Homo sapiens: one gene and its partners. The protein of the gene in region 3 interacts with the protein of the main gene of each other region in a pairwise test. Each region holds a gene or a part of one and is shown on either strand. Other genes may lie near its edges.

Region 1 (7,272 bases), on a different chromosome or scaffold from region 3:
AGTGAGAAGACGGTCATCTGCAAACTAGGAAGTGAATCTGCTGGTGCCTTGATCTTGGACTTCCCAGCTTCCGGAACTGTTGTTCATAAGCTACCCCAGTTTACGGCATATTTGTTATAGCAGCCTGAACAAACATTTGGAGACATCTGCTCTCTACCCAGGGCTGCTCCCACCACAGGGCCTTTGCACATGCTGTTCCCACTCCTGGATGCTGTTCCCCACATCCCTTCCTCCTTACTCCCTAAGGGGTTCCTTGATCATCCCATTGAAAAGTTGCTTCTGCGGCCAGGCTCAGTGGCTCACGCCTGTAATCCCAACACTCTGGGAGGCTGAGGAGGGTGGATCACCTGAGGTCAGGAATTCGGGACCAGCCTGGCCAACATGGTGAAACCCCGTCTCTACTAAAAATACAAAAAGTTAACTGGGCATGGTCCCATGCGCCTGTAATCCCAGCTACTTGGGAGGCTGAGGCAGGAGAATCGCTTGAACCCGGGAGGTGGAGGTTGCAGTGAGCCGAGATCGCATCACTGCACTCCAGCCTGGGCAACAAGAGCAAAACTCCGTTTCAAATAAATAAATAAATAAATAAATAAATAAATAAATAAATAAAAGTTTCCCATCTCATTTCCTGCCCTTATTTTTCTTTGCAGCATTCCCACCACCTGCACTTGATATATTTTCCCGATGGATTCTGCCTGTTGTCTGTTTCCCCAACTACAGTGAGAGGTGGGGGGAGGGGGGGCTGGGATTTTTGTCTGTTTTATTCACTGCTGTGTCTGTGGTTCATAGTACCTGGTATACAACAGGAACTTCATAAAGGCTTACAGAGGAAATGAATGAGTCTTTCCTTATAGGTTCATAGAGATTTATAATTTCATTTTCAGAACTTTGTGGCATGCTAGGATGGATGAACTGAACTGTTACTAATGTAACCAATCCTTTAAGTTATTTCCTTTTTTTTTTTTTCCTTCTTCTTGAGGCAGAGGATCACTCTGCACTCTGTCACCCCAGGCTGGAGTGCAGTGGCACGATTTCAGCTCACTTCAACCTCTGCCTTCCAGACTCAAGCGATCCTCCTGCCTTAGGTTCCCGAGTAGCTGGAACTGTAAGGATGTGCCACCACTCCCAGCTAATTTTTGTGTGTGTGTATATCTATCTATATATATATATAAAAATTTTTTTTTTTGGTAGACATGGGGTTTCACCATATTGCCCAGGCTAGTCTTGAACTCCTGGGCTCAAGCGATCCTCCTATCTTGACCTCCCAAAGTGCTGGGATTACAGGCATGACTCACTGTGCCCGGCCCATTTTATTTTTTTTCATGTAACAAACAATGCTGCAATGAATCACTTTGAGCCTGGAGCATCTTTTTGCCTTCTCTCTCTCTCTCTTTTTTTTTTTTATATGAAGTCTCGCTCTGTCACCAGGCTGGAGTGCTGTGGCGCGATCTAGGCTTACTGCAACCTCCAACTCCCTGGTTCAAGTGATTTTCCTGCCTCAGCCTCCCGAGTAGCTGGGATTACAGGTACATGCCACCACGCCCAGCTAATTTTTTGTATTTTTGGTAGAGACAGGGTTTCACAGCGTTGGCCAGGATTGTCTCAGTCTCCTGACCTTGTGATCCGCCCACCTCAGCCTCCCAAAGTGCTGGGATTACAGGTGTGAGCCACCACGCCTGACTTTGCCTTCTCAAAAAAACAAACCTGCAACATACACACAACATAAAATTGAACATTTTAGCCAATTTATTTATTTATTATTATTATTTTGAGATGGAGTTTTGCTCTTGTTGCCCAGGCTGGAGTGCAGTGCCGTGATCTCGGCTCAACTGCAAACTCTACCTCCCAGGCTCAAGTGATTCTCCTGCCTCAGCCTCCCAAGTAGCTGGGATTACAGGCATGCGCCACCACACCCGGCTAATTTTGTGTATTTAGTAGAGATGGAGTTTCTCCACGTTGGTCAGGCTAGTCTCAAACTCTGGACCTCAGGTGATCCGCCCACCTCAGCCTCCCAAAGTGCTGGGATTACAGGCATGAGCCACCGCGGCCGGCCCAGCCATTTATTTTAAATTATTTTTTAGAGATAGGGTCTTGCTCTGCTGCATAGGCTGGAGTGGAGTGGCACAATCACGGCTCACTGCAGTCACAACCTTCTGGGCTCAAGGGATCCTCCCACCTCAGCCTCTGAAGTAGCTGGGACTACAGGCTGAAGCCACCATGCCCAGCTAATTTTTAAATTATTATTATTATTATTATTATTATTATTATTGAGATGGAGTCTCGCTCTAACGCCCAAACTGGAGTGCAGTGGCATGATCTCAGCTCACTGCAACCTCTGCCTCCTGGGTTCAAGCGATTCTCCTGCCTCAGCCTCCCTAGTAGCTGGGATTACAGGCACGTGCCACCATGCCCAGCTAATTTTTGTATTTTTAGTGGAGACGGGGTTTCACCATGTTGGCCAGGCTGGTCTGGTACTCCTGACCTCGTGATCCGCCCACCTTGGTCCCCCAAAGTGCTGGGATTACAGGCATGAGCCACCACGTCCAGGCTGAGCCACATTTTTTTATTCGTTAGTCAGTTCACACTGTAAACATGCAAATATTCAGGCAGGGATTCCCAGAAGTGGACTTGCTGTGTCAGCAGGCACATGAGTTTATCATTCCGGTGGCCTGTGCCAGGGTGCCCTCCACCAGTGCTACACCATGGACGCACCCCACAGCCTGGCTGGCACAGAATGTCATTGCATTGTTGGATTTTTGCCAATTTGATTGGTGAAGACAAACAGTTTGTGATTTGCAGTTTTCTTATTAAGTGTGAACTTTTTTTTTTTTTTGAGACAGGTCTCACTCTGTTGCCCAGGCTGGAATGCAGTGGAGTGATCTTGGCTCACTGCAGCCTCCACCTCCTGGGTTCAAACAATTCTCCTGCCTCAGCCTCCTGAGTAGCTGGGACTACAGGCACATACCACCACACCTGGCTAATTTTTGTATTTTTTAAAGTAGAGACGGGGTTTCACCATGATGGCCAGGCTGGTCTCGAACTCCTGGGCTCAAGCGATCTGCTCACTTCAGCCTCCCAAAGTGTTGGGATTACAGGTGTAAGCCACTGCACCTGGCAAGAATGAGCATCTCTGGACATGTTGAAAAGCAGTTTCCCGCTTTTTCTTCAAGGTCTCCGTTCAAAGCCTTTGACCATTTCTTGGAGTTTGGCGATGTGAAGGACAGAGGCCGAAAAGAGGGGAAAACGTGGGGGAGTGGACTCCCAGCCTCCCAGATCCCGGAGAAGCCTCTGTGCATTTGACAGCTGTGGACATGGTGTCACACGCAGTTAAGGTGGCACAGTGAGTCGGGCTGGCATAGGTTGTACCTGGTCCACCTGACACCAGGTTCAGGTGAGGCCTTCTCCCAGCCCACCCCTCCTCAGTATCATTTTTGTCACTACTACCCCTCCAGTCTGCCTCAGGCCCCCATCTGCTTCTGGGACCTCAGCCTCCTCCCCAAGTTGCCCACCCCAGACACCAGGCTCACTCCAGAGGGACTTCTTGAGCCAGTGCCCCTCTGCCCACGCACCTGCCTTGGCTCCACATGGACCTCTTCCCCCACCACCAATTCCTTCTATCCTCTCCACTCCTAACCATGCTATCCCAGCCAGCTACATTTTCCCAAGCTGCTGGGAGCCCTCCTCACTGTCCCCTCCAGCATAGAGGTGCCACTGTGCAAGAACTCAGTGGGAGAGGCTTGGAGGAGCTTGGAGAGCCAATGATAGGTTTGGGGAATCTTAGTGAACTCCTACTCATGCGTTGAAGCCCCAACTGTAATGCCTCCTCCTCCAGGAAGCCTTCCAGGACCCTGTCTTTCCCTCTGGACCTTCCTTAACTGCATGGGACTAGGAGTGTCTATGTCCAGCTCTGTCCTCTCTTAAGATAGCTCCTTGAGGACCTGGTCAGGGCTGAGGCCTCTTGGGGGCCCAGCGTGGGTGATGCTTGTTGAATGAATAAATGACTGCATGAGCTGGGAACCAGCCAAGCTGAGATCAAGAAGCGAGTTGATGAGGTGGCAGTCGGTTGGGGTGCTAATAGAGGACATGAAGTCACTGGGTTCTAGCAAGAGGGAAGCGGGACTCTGGTCCACCCCTCCCTCTTGCCCTCCATCCACCTCTGGTGAGAACCTTGAGGCCCTGCAAGGGGGCGGATCTCTGTCTTCATTCTTCCCCTCTGCACTCCACCCAGACACCAGTTCCTCTTCCCCCTGAGTCGCTGGGTGCAGAGCCAGAGGAACGCCAGCGACCCCAGCAGCGCTGCGGACGGTGCTGGCCGTGGCCGCTGCGGCCCCCGTGTCCAGGTGGGCCAGGACGCAGCCTCTGGGCGCCGTCGCTTTTCCAGCATCGCAGAGGCAAAAGCGTGGCAGTGGGACCCAAAAGGTAGGACTGAGGCTCTAGAACTTGCACCTGTGCAGGGACTGCAAACCAGACCTGGGAGGACCCTTTCAGCAGCCCCCACTCCACCCTATCCCAGGACTTCCCAGCGACCCGCCGTTCTGGGAGATACCGGGAGCGTGATCAGGGGGCGGGGCCGTTTCCAAGGCAACCGCTTATTTGCATAGGGTCCCGTCCTGGCCAACGAGGGCGCCCCAAATGTTCAGGACATAGAAGAAGGGGTTAACTGGCCCGGATCTCCTCCTCGCCTTCCAAGCCCGCTAAGCACTGGGGTTATCTACCCATTCCCCAGAAGGGGAGACTGAGGCAGCCCACCAGCCAAAGGAGGCGACCAGACTGGGGCTGCGTTTTACCATTTCAGAAGCGGCTTGAGCTGGTCTGAGCTATAATAATAAACACTGGCGGTGGAGGCGAGGGCGACCACAGGGCTGAGGTCAGGGCTAGGATTCCGGTGTCTCTACGTAGGTTGCTTGAATGGGGGGCACCCTGGCATGGACGCTGCTGTTGCCGCTGCTGCTGCGGGAGTCAGACAGCCTAGAACCGTCGTGCACCGTGTCCTCCGCGGATGTGGACTGGAACGCGGAGTTCAGTGCCACGTGCCTGAATTTCAGTGGCCTCAGCCTGAGCCTGCCTCACAACCAGTCTCTGCGGGCCAGCAACGTGATTCTCCTTGACCTGTCTGGGAACGGCCTGCGAGAGCTTCCAGTGACCTTCTTTGCCCACCTGCAGAAGCTTGAGGTCCTGAACGTGCTACGCAACCCCTTGTCTCGTGTGGATGGGGCGCTGGCCGCCCGCTGTGACCTTGACCTGCAGGCCGACTGCAACTGTGCCCTGGAGTCCTGGCACGACATCCGCCGAGACAACTGCTCTGGCCAGAAGCCTCTGCTCTGCTGGGACACAACCAGCTCCCAGCACAACCTCTCTGCCTTCCTGGAGGTCAGCTGCGCCCCTGGCCTGGCCTCTGCAACTATCGGGGCAGTGGTGGTCAGCGGGTGCCTGCTTCTTGGACTTGCCATCGCTGGCCCTGTGCTGGCCTGGAGACTCTGGCGATGCCGAGTGGCCAGAAGCCGGGAGCTGAACAAACCCTGGGCTGCTCAGGATGGGCCCAAGCCCGGTTTAGGCTTGCAGCCACGGTACGGCAGCCGGAGCGCCCCCAAGCCCCAAGTGGCCGTGCCATCCTGCCCCTCCACTCCCGACTATGAGAACATGTTTGTGGGCCAGCCAGCAGCCGAGCACCAGTGGGATGAACAAGGGTAAGTAAGCCACTGAGACACCTGCCAAAGTGGTGAATAATAAGGCTCCACACCCAGATGGCCGAGGTTCAAATCCCAGCTCTGCCGCTTGAAGGCTGTGGGATCTTAGGTGAGTAGCTTTACTTCTCTGAGCCTCAGTCTCCTCACCTATAAAATGGGGAGAGGACTGGACATGGTGGCTCACACCTGTAATCCTAGCACTTTGGGAGGCCAAGGCAGGCGGATCACTTGAAGTCAGGAGTTTGAGACCAGCCTGGCCAACACGGTGAAACCCAGTCTGTACTAAAAATACAAAAATTAGCCAGGTGTGGTGGCGGGCGCCTGTGGTTCCAGCTACTGAGGAGGCTGAGGCAAGAGAATCTCTTGAACCTGGGAGTCAGAGGTTGCAGTGAGCCAAGTTCATGCCATTGCACTCCAGCCTGGGTGACAGAGTGAGACTCCATCTCAAAAATAAAATCAATAAAATAAAGTAAAATGAGGGAGAATTACAGCCCCCATCATAGTGTGTTGGGGTAAGAATTAAGTGAGTTCCCATATATGGGACAAACTTCCCCCCCTTATGACCTGTAAACCCAGTTTCTGGCGGCCAAGGATGGGGAGACAGGAGGCAACTGCTTGAGCGGAGTTGGGGCTCCGCGGTGGCGGTCAGCAGCATAGGCCCAGGTCCCATGTGACCCAAGGCTGTCTCTGAACCTCCATTTCTGTCTCCATAGAGTGGGGACAGCCCCCCATTTCCCCATGACACACATGAGATACTAAAGAGGTGCCCTACAAAGTCCCATCACCACTAGATGATTTTTTTTTTTTTTTTTTTGAGATGGAGTCTGGCCCTGTCATCCAGGCTAGAGTGTAGTGACACGATCTCGGCTCACTGCCAGCTCCGCCTCCCGGGTTCATGCCATTCTCCTGCCTCAGCCTCCCGAGTAGCTGGGACTACAGGCGCCCGCCACCACGCCAGGCTAATTTTTTGTATTTTTAGTAGAGACGGGGTTTCACCGTGTTAGCCAGGATGGTCTCGATCTCCTGACCTCGTGATCCGCCCACCTCAGCCTCCTTAAGTGCTGGGATTACAGGTGTGAGCCACCGCGCCCAGCCGACATTTTTTTTTGAGACAGTGTCATTCTGTCGCCCTGGCTGGAGTGCAGTGGCACCATCACAGATCACTGCAGCCTCAAGCTCCTGGCCTCAAGTGATCCTCCTGCCTCAGTCTCCAGAGTAGTTGGGACCACAGGCACATGCCGCCGCACCCAACTAATTTTTGTATTTTTCATAGAGACGGGGGTCTTGCTATATTTCTCAGGCTGGTCTCAAACTCTTGGCCTCAAGTGATCCTCATGTCTTAGCCTCCCAAAGTGCTGGCATTATGGGTGTGAGCCACCGCCACCGGCTTCTGGATGATTTTGCTGGGCTTAGACAAATGAGTTGAACTTTTCTAGGTTGGTGTGGGGTGCGGTGGCTCATGCCTATAATCCCAGCACTTTTCGAGGCCAAGGCGAGGTCAGATCACCTGTGGTCAGGACCTCAAGACCAGCCTGACCAACATGGTGGAACCCTGTTTCTACTAAAAAATACAAAAATTAGGCCG
Region 2 (7,025 bases), on a different chromosome or scaffold from region 3:
CCTAAATGCACCCAGCTGCCCTTGATTTTCTCTGGGCTACTGGCCTTCACAACCCTCTCCCATGTACCCTCTCTGACTTTGGGGTAACCCTCCCCTAACTTAAAGCTAGAGAATTCTGAAACTGAGGAGGGGATCCTCTGTTAATCAGTGAGCACTTTTTGATGAGCTGATAGATGATATATGAGAGACTATGCGTGGCACAATACTTTGTTACACTCTTCACTGATACAAGTGTTCTAGAGTGTACACACAACCCAAAGATAGAAATAAAAAGAGGAGCAGTGTCGGGGAGCTTGGGGCCTGGTGTTCCATGGAGAGGGAGAAAGGAACAAGCTTGACCAATTCATTCAACTCCTTATAAAAATGATGAGGAGGCTGAAAACCAAGAATTTTGATTGGGAACAGAATACAAGCAGCTGAATCAGATGAATTACTAAGCAACAAAGATCCTGTTTTTATACAAATATCCTTAGTACAAAAACAAAAGAAGGAAAACTGTAGGGGGGAGTAATGTGCTAAGTAAGCAGAATTGCCTCAAAAAGAAGTTGTTCTAGTTACTCTTTCAGAGTGGGAATCTTAGATTCTGGTATTGTGGATATGGTTCACATATAATGGGATTGTGTGTTTTATTTTGGAGGGATTAAAGGTCATAGTTTGGTCCTCAGTATAAAATCAACTGGTAATTTATTCATTTCATTTGGTAAAAATGTATTGACTGCCTGCTATGTTCTAGGCACCATGCTATGTATTTGGAATACAGCTATACAAAGCATTGTCACATAATTGAAATGAAAATTTTATATTATTTAAGTCACAAGAACAAGCTATTTAATTATATTACTTTTAGTTTCTCTTTTAATAAAGAATAGATAATGCTATCATTCTAGATACTAAATAAGTATTTTCTTAACATAATATTACTATCCACTTTATCTTGTAGAAGAAATAACTAAAATACATCTGTCTTCACTCCTGTATTTGTTTGCATTTTAAGGATTAAAGACAGAAATAGAAATGTAAACAACTTTATTTTGAAAATATTTCAACACTGCAAATATCTCTGGGTCTGATATTCTAGTAATCTAATTGGCTAGTAATTGATGTTAGTGTGATTTATTGTTGAAGGCTAAATGTGTTTTTCAGTTTCAAGAAAATTGCTTTTAATAATTGCCTAGAACAAGAGGTTGATTTGGCAGCAAGATGTTGACGGGAAGTTAGAGAAGTCAATAAAGGAAGTTTTTAGCTGAGAGAGAGTGATTATTCACTCCCATAGCCTCTGCATTGTTATCCATTAGCCACGATAAGAACCTTAGGGAATTCTGAGAGTGTGTCCAGGAAAGGATCTGTCAAACTAGAATAGTATCTCCTCCTTGAGAAAGGAAATAACCAAGGATTCCGCAGCTGAGAGGCTGCCAGGGCTAGTGAAATAGAGTAAGGAAATCTTGGCTGTCTCTTATTCTCTGGTTGTAGTTTAACGCAAGACACTTATTTACTCACTGATGGTGTGTGTGTGTGTGGGAGGGGAGATTAGCATGAGGGGTGGGAATGGGGAGATTCGATGAAGAGAAAACTAACATTTTTTTGGTGACTCAGGAACTGTGCCAGGTACTTCCATGCTTATTAGCTCAATTACACAAAAATCTTGGGACCAGGTATTATTTTTCAAGTCTTCCCACATGAAGTAACTGAAGTTTGGAGATGTTAAGTGATTCACCCAAAGTTGTACAGCTAATATGTGGTTAGGCTGGGTCCTGAAACCGAGGCAGTTTATTTTCAAAGCCTTTGCTTTGTGCATCTTACTGCGCCACATTGCACTGCACATCTGCTTCCTGAAAGCACTTTGTAGGTGTGTAAAACTTTTCGTTAAATGCTTTAAGCTGTTTGGGTTAAAAATATATGTTCATGTTATAAGAAAACCAAGACACTCCTAATTATAATCAAATAGTACTTGTTACATATCAATATGTGTGTGTGTGTGTGTGTGTGTGTGTGTGTGTGTGTGTGTGTGTGTGTGTGTATGGCGTTGTGCAGATGTTTAAAAGTAGTTACATAGACTAGTTCTTGCTTTTCAGGGTCCCATAATCTAAACCAGATGACTTCAGCTTTGGATAAATATATAGAAGGAAATTTAAAGAGAATTCAAAACAATAGATGATGCAGTGACACTGTGAATAAATGTTATTTATACAGTTTGTAAGATTTCATGCTCATTGTTCATATGTCCCAGGTGGAGTTCAGAAAATATTCTCTTCATTTCCACAAAGGGGAATAGTGCCTGGAGATGGTTTTCTTTTAAAAAGTCCTTTTCATAATGCAGTGCCCTTCCTTCCATTGCCCTTCATTCCATTGCTTCCCATGCTTGTCAAGAGACTAAAATGTTACTTATAGTAATAGTCACTATCTCAATGTAAATAGCACCCTTATTTGATGAGAATTATTATTTCAGTTCTAAAAATGGGGAAACAAAGTCAGCAGGAGGCAAAGTAGCTTGTTAAAGTATTCTGCAACTTTCAAATGGTTGCTTCCACTGCATTTCACGTCTTGGCACTTCTAATTGAGGGTTACTCTAACCACCCTATTTAAAATTGTAACTGTCCCCCACCCCCTTAATTACTAACCCTGGTCTACTTTTTGTTTTCTTTTTCTGTAACTCTTATCTTCTTACTATATAATTTATACTATATAATTTACTTCATTATGTCTATTGTTCATTGTCTGTCTTTTCCAAATTCTACTGCCTCTTACCCTCTCCAGAATGAAAACTAGTATCTTTGTTTTTGTTTACTGATGTAACCCAAACACCTACAAACAGTGCCCAGTATATACTAGGCCCACAAATATATATTGGCTGACTGACTGTATGGTTTAGTATCATGTCATAGTATTGAGACTGTAACTTTGGTCTTCTCATTTTCTTCTTTGTATTGTGCGTCCTAGACTTAGTTTGGCCTCTCCTTTTGTCCTTGTATACTCTAATACTGGATAAGAATTTTGGAGTCTTTTTCAACTCTGAGTCAGTGAATGCCACATAACTTAGTGACTATATTTAAATGGTTAATTTACAATTTTTTCCCTGCAAAGGATACTGTAGTCACTGTGAGTATTTTAGTATTATTGTAGGACTCAAGAGGGAATTAAAACTACAAAAATGACTCCTCTTGTATGACACAGAAAGAAATGTTTCTTCACAGAGGGAGGAGAAAAATATCTTCAAGAGAGAACTAATAGAATCAAATCAATGAACCATGTCTCATCTTTTTGGATAAGTAACTGTTAGTAATCCAGACACTTCATGAGCTTTCATTATGTAAAGTCTTTAGCAGAAGCTAAAGGAGGGGCACCAACCACAGTAATTTTAACTTAAGAACAAAATGGAGCATGAAAATAAATTATTAAATCATTTACTCCCACTATTTTTGGGTTAGGGCCAATAATGGGGAGAGAAAGAGGTAGACTAGTTTTGTGTTTGTGGCTATTTTAATAGAGTAGCACAAGTAATCAAAAAACAGTAGGCTGTTTTGAATTTACTGGCTGTCCCTTATGAGTTCACAGTTAGATTGGACTGTCCTCAATGTACTTTCTTTTTTTTCTTTCTTTCCCACATCTCTTTATTTCTCTGATTTTGTTTAAACTTCATAAAGAGCTCTCTGATCTTTCCTTTCCAAACAATGAAGGTTTATCCTTTGTAAACTACCTCTGTACTCCACAGGCTGATGATATGTGATATCCCTATATCATTAAAGTAAAGCCTAAGCACATTCTATGGCTTTTGTGTCTACTCTGTTGTTGCTGAGCTTATGAACTATTAGAAATAACTCCCTCTTGCATTTTCACACATGGGGAATGTGATGTTCTCTTGGGTATTATGCTAATCATATTTTGGCAGGTTTCTCTGGAGCAGATGCAGAAATGATCATACCACTTTCCAGGGTGTATTATTTTAGCTCCTTTGACTTGGGCCCTAAGTCTGTTTTACCTGATGTTCCTGAAAGATGTTCCTGATGTCCTTCACTGTTCTTTCATGCTGGATGTTCTTGCCTATGCTGCCTCCTCAGCTATCACCCTCTCTTCCCCTTTTTAATGTAGAACTCATTCTTAATGATTTGTCAAAGGCACCCTATTTCACTGAAATGCCTTCTATATTCCCTACCCTCCAAGTGGATTGTAGACCTTCTAAGGTCTTTTGACATCTGCATATCTCTAGCACAGCACTTATCACGGTGATTATTTATCTGTTCATCTTTCCAAGTAGACACTCTCATTTTAACTCCCTACCCTAGTCGCCAGCATCCCCAGCATAGTGCCTGTCATAAAATGGTGCCACAATGAAAATTTGAAAAATGAATGAACGTGATAAACATAGATGAGAATCCTATATTCTACAATTTTTTAAATGTACTGAAATTATTCTTTTTGAATCCTCCTATTTATTTCTGTGACTTCTTTGATGACAAAGTTAGAAAAAAGTGGAGGTCAGTAGGGAGATATGAAGGGACGCAGGTGGAAGCAGTGAGCCTGGGCGGGTGATGGAGTGGGAGATACGTGGCACAGGGGTCAGTGAGTTAATCTGGGCTCATTCAGAGAATGGAAGGTGTGTGCCAAGAAAACTGGTTGGATAGGGATAGGTCAGGGATTCCCTCTTGCATTCTCACACTTGGGGGCATGTGTCATTTTCTTTTCTTTTCTTTTTTTTTTTTTTTTTTTTTGAGACGGAGCATCGCTCTTTCTCCCAGGCTGGAGTGCAATGGTGCTATCTCGGCTCACTGCAACCTCCACCTCCCGGGTTCAAGCTATTCTCATGTCTCAGCCTTCCAAGTAGCTGGGACTACAGGTGCCTGCCACCATGCTCAGCTAATTTTTGTATTTTTAGTAGAGATGGGGTTTCACCATGTTGGTCAGGTTGGCCTCGAACTCCTGATCTCAGGTGATCCACCTGCCTCGGCTTCTCAAAGTGCTGGGATTCCAGGCATGAGCCACCATGCCTGGCCGCATGTGTCATTTTCTTGGGTGTTATACTGATCGTATATTTGCAGGTTTGCTTTTGTGACAGACTTCTTCTGGGGGAAAAAAAGTATCCTTCTATCTTTTTACTTTTGTCCAGTTCCAGGTATCCCTGTTTTTTTCTTCACTCTTCCTTCCTTGTTCATGGGAGTTTTTCTTGAGGACTTCAAGCCCAGCTTCGGAGAATCCTGGTTGTGTCATCTCATCTCCTTTCTGCTCTCTTCTCTACCTAGCCTTTCCACCCTCACACCTCCCGGGGTCTGAAAATGGAAAGATAAGGGTGTTTCCCTGAAAGTTGCTCTTCTGTGTGGGGATGACAGGTTCTAAAGACTCTTTTCTGGTCCCTGCCCTCATTGCCATGATTAATCAGTTAAGTGGCCCGAGGTTTTATAACAGCACAGTCTTAAAATGCTTCTCCCAAGTTTAATTTCTCTCCATTTGACCTTTTAAGGATGTGAATTGGCTTTAAGCAGTAGACTCCCTTTAGTACGGTGCTGTGAGCCTCTCAGTGAATCTGCTACATCCATTCCACCCACGGGTCTGGAAACTTGTCTGTTTACCTTTCCCTAAAAACCTAAGATATATTTTTAAGAAGTGCCTTGTAACTTTTCATATAGCCTTTCCCCTACTTTGGGTAGACTGTTTCTTACAGGAATTTGGTAGATCTTTCCAAAGAGAATTCTGTATCTGTATTTTTAAAGCATAAATCCTGTCAACTTTGGAGGAGAACTGATTTGGCTTGAGTTTTCTCAGACATGGGAACTTTTGACCTAAGTTTGTATTTTACATTGTTGAAAGGGAACTCCGGGATCCCAGAAAACATATGGACTGCAATTGGGTAAAGTTTCTGTTCCAGAAATGCCTCTTCTGGACATTTCATACAAATGGAAACATGCAGCATGTAGTAATTTATGACAGCTTCTTTCACTTAGCATGAGGTTTTCAAAGTTCATTGATGTGGTAGCATTTGTCAGTACTCTGTGCCTTTTTATGGCTGAATAATATTTTATCATATGGATTTACCACATTTTATCATTTTATTTATCCATCATCAGTTGATTGACATTTGAGTTGCTTCTACTTTTTGAGTATTATCAATAATTCTGTTATGAACATTCTTGTATAATTTTTTGGTAGACATTTATCTTCATATTTCTTGGATATATACCTAGGAGCAGAATTGCTGCGTCAGATGGTAATGCTGTTTAACCTTTTCAGGAACTGTCAGACTGTTCTGAAGTGGGTACATTATTTTACATTCCAACCAGCAGTGTATGAGAATTCCAGTTTCTCCACATCCTCATCAACAGTTGTTATTGTCTGTCTTTTTTATTATATTCATCTGTAATGTGAAGTGTTTATCTCATTGTGGTTTTGATTTACATTTCCCTGATGGTTGATGATTTTCAACATCTTTTCATATACTTATTAGTCATTATGTATCTTCTTTGGAGAATGTCTGTTCAGATCCTTTACCTACTTTATAATTGGTTTATCTTTTTAATATTGAACTGTAATAGTTTTTAAAAAATATATCCTAAATACAAGTCTCTTATCAGATAATATGATTTGCAGATATTTTCTGTCATTCTATGTACTGTCTTTTCACATTCTTGATGATATACTTTTCAGCCCAAATGTTTTTAACTTGATGGAATACAATTTATTTTTTCTTTTGTTGCTTGTGCTTTCAGTCATATTTGTGAAAACTTTGCTTATCCCACATTACAAAGATTTACTATTTCTAAGTGATTTATAATTTTACCACCTACCTTTAGGTCTCTGATCCATTTTGAGTTAATTTTTATGTGCGAGGAGGGAGTCTAACTTGATTCTTTTACATGTGGATATTTAGTTGTCCCAGGACCATTTGTTGAATTAAGTGCCCAGAACAAGTACATCTATATATAGAGAAAGTAGATTAGTGGTTGTCAGAGACTGTAAGAAGTGGGGAATTGGAGAGTGACTGCCCATAGGTACAGGCATGCTTTTTGGCATTATGAAAATATTCTGGAATTAGGTAG
Region 3 (7,025 bases):
CCAGGTCTCCTATTGGCTCCCTGCAGCCACGAGGGGCTGTGTGGTCAGAGCCAGCAAGTCAGCCCCTGCCTCGGTACTCCCAATCCTGGGGCCCAGAGCACAGGGGTGACCCCTCTTCCTGCACCCAGTCTGTCCAGCTCCCCTGTGCGCTGTGCCTGGCCTGCTGGGGAGGGGCTCTGGGCGTGGGTGTCAGAGCTCAGCAGGCACCAGGAGCCAATGGCTCAGCAGAGCTTCCCAAGATAGGTCCTGCGCTGGCAGCCTCCGGACAGCGTTCTGTTTTGAACTTTAAGCGGAGATGCTACCTCTGGAAGGCCGGGGAAGGACAGAGCCTGCCTTCTCCCCAGGATGGCCTGAGCGTGTGTGGGACTTGTGGGGCCCCAGCAGTGGGGGGAATCTGCTCTGAGGGGATTTTACCCTGTGGAGCCCAGAGGGACCGAAGACACCAGTGACAGGCCTGGCCTGAATCTTGGGGCACCAGCAGCCATGCTGGCCCTTGGGCAGGGAGCTGTGTCCCATCTCCCCAGCACAGCCTCCTGCCTGCCAGCCAGCCAGTAAAAGGGTGGCGGCCTCCAACCTCCAGCCTGGCGCTGGCTGATGCACTGCTCAGGGAGGGGCAGGTGAGCGTGCACACGAGGAGGGGGCATCTCCCACCCCCAGGCCCCCTGAGGCAAGAGTGTTGGGGCTCATGGGCCCTCCGTGGGCCCTGCCAGGGTGGAGGCCCCAGGCCTGTCTTGAGCTGGGCTGGTGTTGCAGGTGGGGGTGGGGCGGCTGCTGGTGGCCAGCAGCTATCCCAGCCTTGGTTTCTGTCTGGAAAGTGGGGTGTGAGTCTGGCCACTGGGGCTTGGGAGGCTTTTATGGGGTGACTTGGGGCTTCTGGTAGTCCCCCGGGAACCCCCAGAGCCTGGGGTCTGAGCCTGTCCTCAGGCATGTGGTCTGGGTGCTCCAAGGGGTTTCATCAGGTTGAGGGGTGGCTTTGCCAGCCCATTCCCAAGTCCTGTCCAGTCCAGGGTGGGGCAGGGATCCCCCAGGGCTGCGCGGCCCTTCCCCAGAACCAGTCAACCGTCGGCACCCCAGGACGTCTACCCACCACCCACCTGGGCACCCACGCTGCAGACCGGGAGCTGGTCAGCATTTTCGGGGGACTGCTTGTCCCGTGCCCAGGCCTGGAACATATCTCCCGTCTCATCCTGAAACGGCCCAAGCCCGAGGCCTCTGTCTGAAGGTGGGGTCCTGGCGGACCCCTGCTTCCCTTGAGGCCTTGCTGGGCCAGCAGCCTAGCACCCTCTCTCTGGGCGCAGCACCCCCTCGTCTCCCCCTGCCTCTTCCTGTTTTAATTGATTTTTATAAGAACAAGCACTTAGGAAACACAGTAAGAGCTCTGGCGGTTACAGACACTGCAGGAGGTGGCCCTCCGGGTGGCAGGTGCTCCTGTGGGACCCGCCTGCTTTGTTCCCACCAGTGCCCATGTGGCTGTAAGAAATCATAACTTGGCCGGGCGCGGTGGCTCATGCCTGTAATCTCAGCACTTTGGGAGGCCGAGACGGGCTGATCATGAGGTCAGGAGATTGAGATCAAGACCATCCTGGCGGCTGGGCGTGGTGGCTCACGCCTGGAATCCCAGCACTTTGGGAGGTCGAGGTGGGTGGATCACGAGGTTGGGAGATCAAGACCATCCTGGCTAACACGGTGAAACCCTGTCTCTACTAAAAGTACAAAAAATTAGCTGGGCGTGGTGGCGGGCGCCTGTAGTCCCAGCTACTCGGGAGGCTGAGGCAGGAGAATGGCGTGAACCCGGGAGGCGGAGGTTGCAGTGAGCCGAGATCGCGCCACTGCACTCCAGCCTGGGTGACAGTGCGAGACTCGGTATCAAAAAAAAAACAAAAAAGACTATTGTGGCTAAACCATCTCTACTAAAAATACAAAAAATTAACCGGGTGTGGTGGGGGCATGCCTGTAATCCCAGCTACTTGGGAGGCTGAGGCAGGAGAATCACTTGAACCTGGGAGGCGGAGGAGGTTGCAGTGAGCCCAGATGGTGCCACTGCACTCCAGCCTGAGCAACAGGGTGAGACTCCATCTCCAAAAAAAGAAAAAAAGAAAGAAATCATAACCAGGAGCAGAGTGTGAGGGAATCAGCGTTTCTCCTGCCACGAGTGACAGGGGACAGCTGGGGACATCACAGAGATCTTGTCGGGAGCTGGGAATCGGAATCCTGGGACCACCTGCCAGGAAGCCCCATCCCGGAGTGAGGGCAGGGCTGGGTCTCCCTGACAGCACAGTCTGGAAAGGCTGGAGTGGCCTGTCAGGTGGGGAGTGAGCCTTCTGCCCTGCGCAGACCAGACGGTGAAGCGGGGTTAGGGGTGTGCAGACTGCGTCCTGGGGCCTAAGATCCCGTCCCTTTGGCTCCAGGCCAGGGGTTGGGCGGATCCCTCCTAGAGGGAGTGGTTCAGAGGCACAAGGGAGCCTCCCCGACTGTGGCCATGGAGTGTGGGTTTGGGGATGGGGTGCCAGCCCAGGGTGTCGGGAAAGACTGGCCTGCCCTGGACACCCCCCCGGGCTGCCGTGGGATCTAGCAGGACTCTGGGTGGTTCTGGCTCAGGCTGGCAGGCGGCATGGCTTTGGGCTTGTGGGCCGGGCTCTGCCCTGGGGTCCAGAGCTTGCATTGGGGCCTCACCCTGTCTGTGTCTCTCCTGTTGCTGTGCCCCAGCTGGGAGGCTGTGGCGTGCTGGGTGTCGGCATCTGGCTGGCCGCCACACAGGGGAGCTTCGCCACGCTGTCCTCTTCCTTCCCGTCCCTGTCGGCTGCCAACTTGCTCATCATCACCGGCGCCTTTGTCATGGCCATCGGCTTCGTGGGCTGCCTGGGTGCCATCAAGGAGAACAAGTGCCTCCTGCTCACTGTGAGTGCCGGGGCCCAAGCGATGCTCCGGGTGGGACCACGCAGGGTGGGGCTCCGGTGGCCCCCAGGCCTTGGCTGCCGCAGTGACCCCCCAGACGTGGGCACCACCTCTGGGGCCGGACCTCCAGGCTGGCAGTGTGGCCCGGGGCCCTGGCCACTGTTGGGTCTTCCAGGCCACACTGGGGCTGGGGGGTGATTTGCAGAGCGGTGTGGGGGTCACTCAAGAGAACGTGCTGTACCTTGTCAGGGGCCTCCCCTGACGGGACACTGGCCCTGGTGAGTGCAGGCACAGCCCCGCACACACGTACACACGCATGCGCAGCCTTTCACGGGCTTGCGGTCTCCGTGACTCATTCCTGACCACCCCACCCCCACTGTGGCCCCTTCCCCAGCTTCTTGTTGGGGGCCTGGTCTCTCAGCTCCCTGGGACCGGCTGCTGGGACGATCCCAGCCCCCACCTCGCCTCGGGGATGGACTTACAGGCAGGGATATGTTTATCCTCCTTAGAAATGTTAATCACAGATAATTAAAAAGGAAAAGGGCTCCTAGATGGAAACACAGGCTTGCTACTGATTAACATGCCTGGCCGAGGCCGTGGGCCCTGCGGAGGGTGTGCAGCCTGCTGAGGTCCTAAATCACGAGGCTTCCGATCACTCCTTTGTCTGGGAAGCCCTGGATGGGTTGGGGCCTCCCTTAGGTCGCCTCAGCCAGTCCACTCCCCTCCGTACCCCTTCCTGGGGGCAAGCCCCAAGTCTATCAGCCTCCCTGGCATCAGGTTGGGGCCCAGAGACCCCTGGAGGCAGTCGGTGGGGGTCTGTGGCAGCCCTACTGGGGCTTGGAGCTCCTCAGTTGAGGAAGCTGCTGTGTGTGGGCCCCACCAGGCCTGCAGGGACCGAAGCCCAACCCCCTTTCCCATGGGTGACTTGGGACCAGAACCCTGGGTACCTCCTGGGGGTGAAGGACTCCTGTGTCCTTAGCCCAGCACCCTGTCTGCCCCACTCACGCCCACTCTGCCTGGGCCCCCCAGCTCCTGGACACATGCTGTCCATGCCTGCCCTCCTCTTTTGTGGGTGTCACTGACCCCCGCATGGAGGAGCAGCAGGGCTGGGGTCAGGCTGAGCTTTGGGGCTGCCGCCAGGCGGGGGAAGCTTGCATGGTCAGAGGTGGGGCTTGCAGCCTGTGGTCTTGCTGGAGGGGGCATCAGCCACGCTGGCTGCCCTGAGGACTGTGACGTGTGGGCAGAAGGGGCCTCTGCAGCCCAGCTGTGGCCCCTGCTGGGACATCTTCCCACCATGAAGACAGGCACCCAGCGAGGCACCTGCCAGACACTCAGAGGCCCCTGGATGGAGGTGTCCTGAAGGCAGCTGACAGGGGCTGGGGCCTCAGGAACAGGGATTTGTGCCCACTTGGGGGTGTCTGGGTTGCCCCAGGGATGGGGGCAGGGGAGGGGAGCCCAGGCCAGCCCAGGGCCCCACACTCAGGGGCTGAGCAGGACACAACAGCCACAGTCCCTGGACCTGGGGCCAAGGGTTCTGAGGTGGGGGCGGCGTTCTGGGCTCTCTGGGAGTGGGGGCCTGGCAGAGGTTTCCTGGCAGCACCAGGTATCCATGAGGTACGTGGCCCTGGCCCCTGGCATGCTGTGGGGCGGAGGCTGTGCGGCCTTTCGGGTCCCTGTCTGAGCCTGCCCCCTCCACAGTTCTTCCTGCTGCTGCTGCTGGTGTTCCTGCTGGAGGCCACCATCGCCATCCTCTTCTTCGCCTACACGGACAAGGTACGGCTGCCTTGGCCGCAGGCCCAACTGCAGGGCTGGGGGCTCCATCCTCACTCCCAGGGAGCACTGTGGGCCCGGTGTGGACAGAGTGGCCCTGCATGTGCCCTCACGGGCAGCCAGGACAGCGGGTGTGGATTTACCAGGCCTGGAGGGGCAGCGCCAGCGACCCTGGGAGGCTGTGCTGTGGCTCTATAGCGACTGGGGCACAAGGGCACTGCTACCCCACCCGGAGGGTGCGCCCCAGGTTGTCCCCCGCCCTCTGACGCAGCGTCCTGAGCCGTCTGCTCCCAGCGCCCCATCCGGGCCGCGCACCGTGGGGTTCTCCTCTGTAGAGCGGCCTCTTCTTGGTCACTCACTCATATATTCAGCCATTTGTTTATACTGGGATGAAGTCCTGGCTATTGAGGTTGCACTCCGAGCTAGAACACACTACTTTGTTTTGTGAATCACACTGTCCGTCCTTGGCCCTGGGGAGCTTCTGCCGTCTGCTGCTGGGTCCCCTGACGTGCCCCCATCAACAGACTTTTCATTTTGGGGCACGTCCTGACTTCCTGGCACTGCAGGGCGCTCCAGGCTCCTTCATTCCCTGCCCTGGCCCAGGAATCAGCCCCTTCTCCAGGGTGCTCTGGGTCCTCACTGAATATTGGGGACCGAGGCCAGGGTGCTGGGTGGGCTCAGCGCTCATAGCCCCTGGCTTTCAGCTCACAGAGCATGGCTGCACGTGTCCCGATACGTGGAGGCACCTGTGTCCCTGTCCTCTGTCCCCCCAGGACCCATGGTCCTCCCCCAGCCTGGGGAGGAAGCCCAGAGGTGGGGGCCCTGGGCCTCAGGGCTGCTGGGAGGACATGGGGCCGGTGTGTCTGCAGCTTGGTGGGCTAGGAGGCGCGGGGGACACAAGACCAGGCGCAGGAGGGGCCCAGCTTAGGGGCCGGCGAGGGGGTCTGGATGAGGGAGGCGGGGTACAGTGGGAGGGGCCCTGCTGACCCCCCCCGCACCCCCAGATTGACAGGTATGCCCAGCAAGACCTGAAGAAAGGCTTGCACCTGTACGGCACGCAGGGCAACGTGGGCCTCACCAACGCCTGGAGCATCATCCAGACCGACGTGAGGCGTGGGCAGGTGGGCGGGGTCGGCGGGTGCCCCCTCCCCTCCTGCCTCAGCCCGACCTGAGCTTGCCCCCCAGTTCCGCTGCTGTGGCGTCTCCAACTACACTGACTGGTTCGAGGTGTACAACGCCACGCGGGTACCTGACTCCTGCTGCTTGGAGTTCAGTGAGAGCTGTGGGCTGCACGCCCCCGGCACCTGGTGGAAGGCGGTGAGTGAGACCCCCACCCTGGGGGCTGGTAGGGGCCTAGAGGGCGGGACCAGCAGGCCCTGCCGTGACACGCATGACATCCCTCCCTGCAGCCGTGCTACGAGACGGTGAAGGTGTGGCTTCAGGAGAACCTGCTGGCTGTGGGCATCTTTGGGCTGTGCACGGCGCTGGTGCAGGTATGGCCTGGGGGCCTGCGGGCTCCCTGCCCCCACTTTGTTAGGACCTTCTGAGCCCAGGGAACAAAGTAGCAAAGACCTTGCCCCCAGGAACCCACGATCGGGGGAGGCCGGGGCAAAAGCAGGAGGGCGAGTTCAGGGGGATGGGCAGGGACGGCCTGTGGGGACAGTGGGCTCCCTCTTAGTGGACAGAGGCAGAGGCTGGTGTGGGGTGGAGGCCGGTGGTCGTCCATGTTGGTCGGTGGCCCAGGACTGGCCAGTGCACAGAGGGTGGCAGCTGGGGCCCTGGTGCCAGTGGCCCCTGGTTTCCAAACTCCACAGCCCTCAGGAAGTTCTGGGTGTCCTCATGCCTGCAAGGCTCAGGGGAGGGTGCTGTGGCTCGAGCCACAGGGGTTGGGTGGGGCGTGCAAGCCACCAGGAAGCTGAAGGGCTCTGCCACTGTGTCGCCCACCCTGGGGTCGGGGTCAGGGCCAGGGCACCTGCTGAGGACAGGGACTGCTCTGGGCTTGAGGCCTGAGCCTGTGGAGCTGCCATGCCCAGTCCTCCTCCCCTACCTACAGATCCTGGGCCTGACCTTCGCCATGACCATGTACTGCCAAGTGGTCAAGGCAGACACCTACTGCGCGTAGGCCGCCCACCGCCCGCTTCTCTGCCAAAAGGACGCCCACGGGGAGATGGCCGCACCCACAGCTGCCTTTCCCACCACCAGCCTCGGTGCTCTGCCCCATGCTGGGAGGAGGGAGGGAGGGACAGGTGCCTGGAGCCCCCGGAACCCTGTTTCTGGAAGGCCCTAGCTCAGGTGGCTTCAGGGCCTCCGGACCCCCCCTGGGAGGGGTGGCCACGTGCTGGCTGCGGAACCCAGGGCAG

What was found.
Region 1: the proteins of TSPAN4 (region 3) and LRRC25 interact in binary tests that used the Homo sapiens proteins (3 or more experiments, as listed by UniProt).
Region 2: the proteins of TSPAN4 (region 3) and NOTCH2NLA interact in binary tests that used the Homo sapiens proteins (3 or more experiments, as listed by UniProt).

What each region holds. Positions count from the first base shown.
Region 1 is NC_000019.10:18,394,600-18,401,871, reverse strand, and holds the start of LRRC25 (leucine-rich repeat-containing protein 25 precursor), read left to right. Parts: upstream 1-4,249; 5' UTR 4,250-4,908; coding exon 4,909-5,687; intron 5,688-7,272. UniProt on the Homo sapiens protein: Plays a role in the inhibition of RLR-mediated type I interferon signaling pathway by targeting RIGI for autophagic degradation.
Region 2 is NC_000001.11:146,148,999-146,156,023, reverse strand, and holds part of NOTCH2NLA (notch homolog 2 N-terminal-like protein A), read left to right. Parts: 3' UTR 1-7,025.
Region 3 is NC_000011.10:859,844-866,868, forward strand, and holds part of TSPAN4 (tetraspanin-4), read left to right. Parts: intron 1-2,706; coding exon 2,707-2,898; intron 2,899-4,593; coding exon 4,594-4,668; intron 4,669-5,669; coding exon 5,670-5,771; intron 5,772-5,850; coding exon 5,851-5,982; intron 5,983-6,074; coding exon 6,075-6,158; intron 6,159-6,718; coding exon 6,719-6,787; 3' UTR 6,788-7,025. UniProt on the Homo sapiens protein: Structural component of specialized membrane microdomains known as tetraspanin-enriched microdomains (TERMs), which act as platforms for receptor clustering and signaling.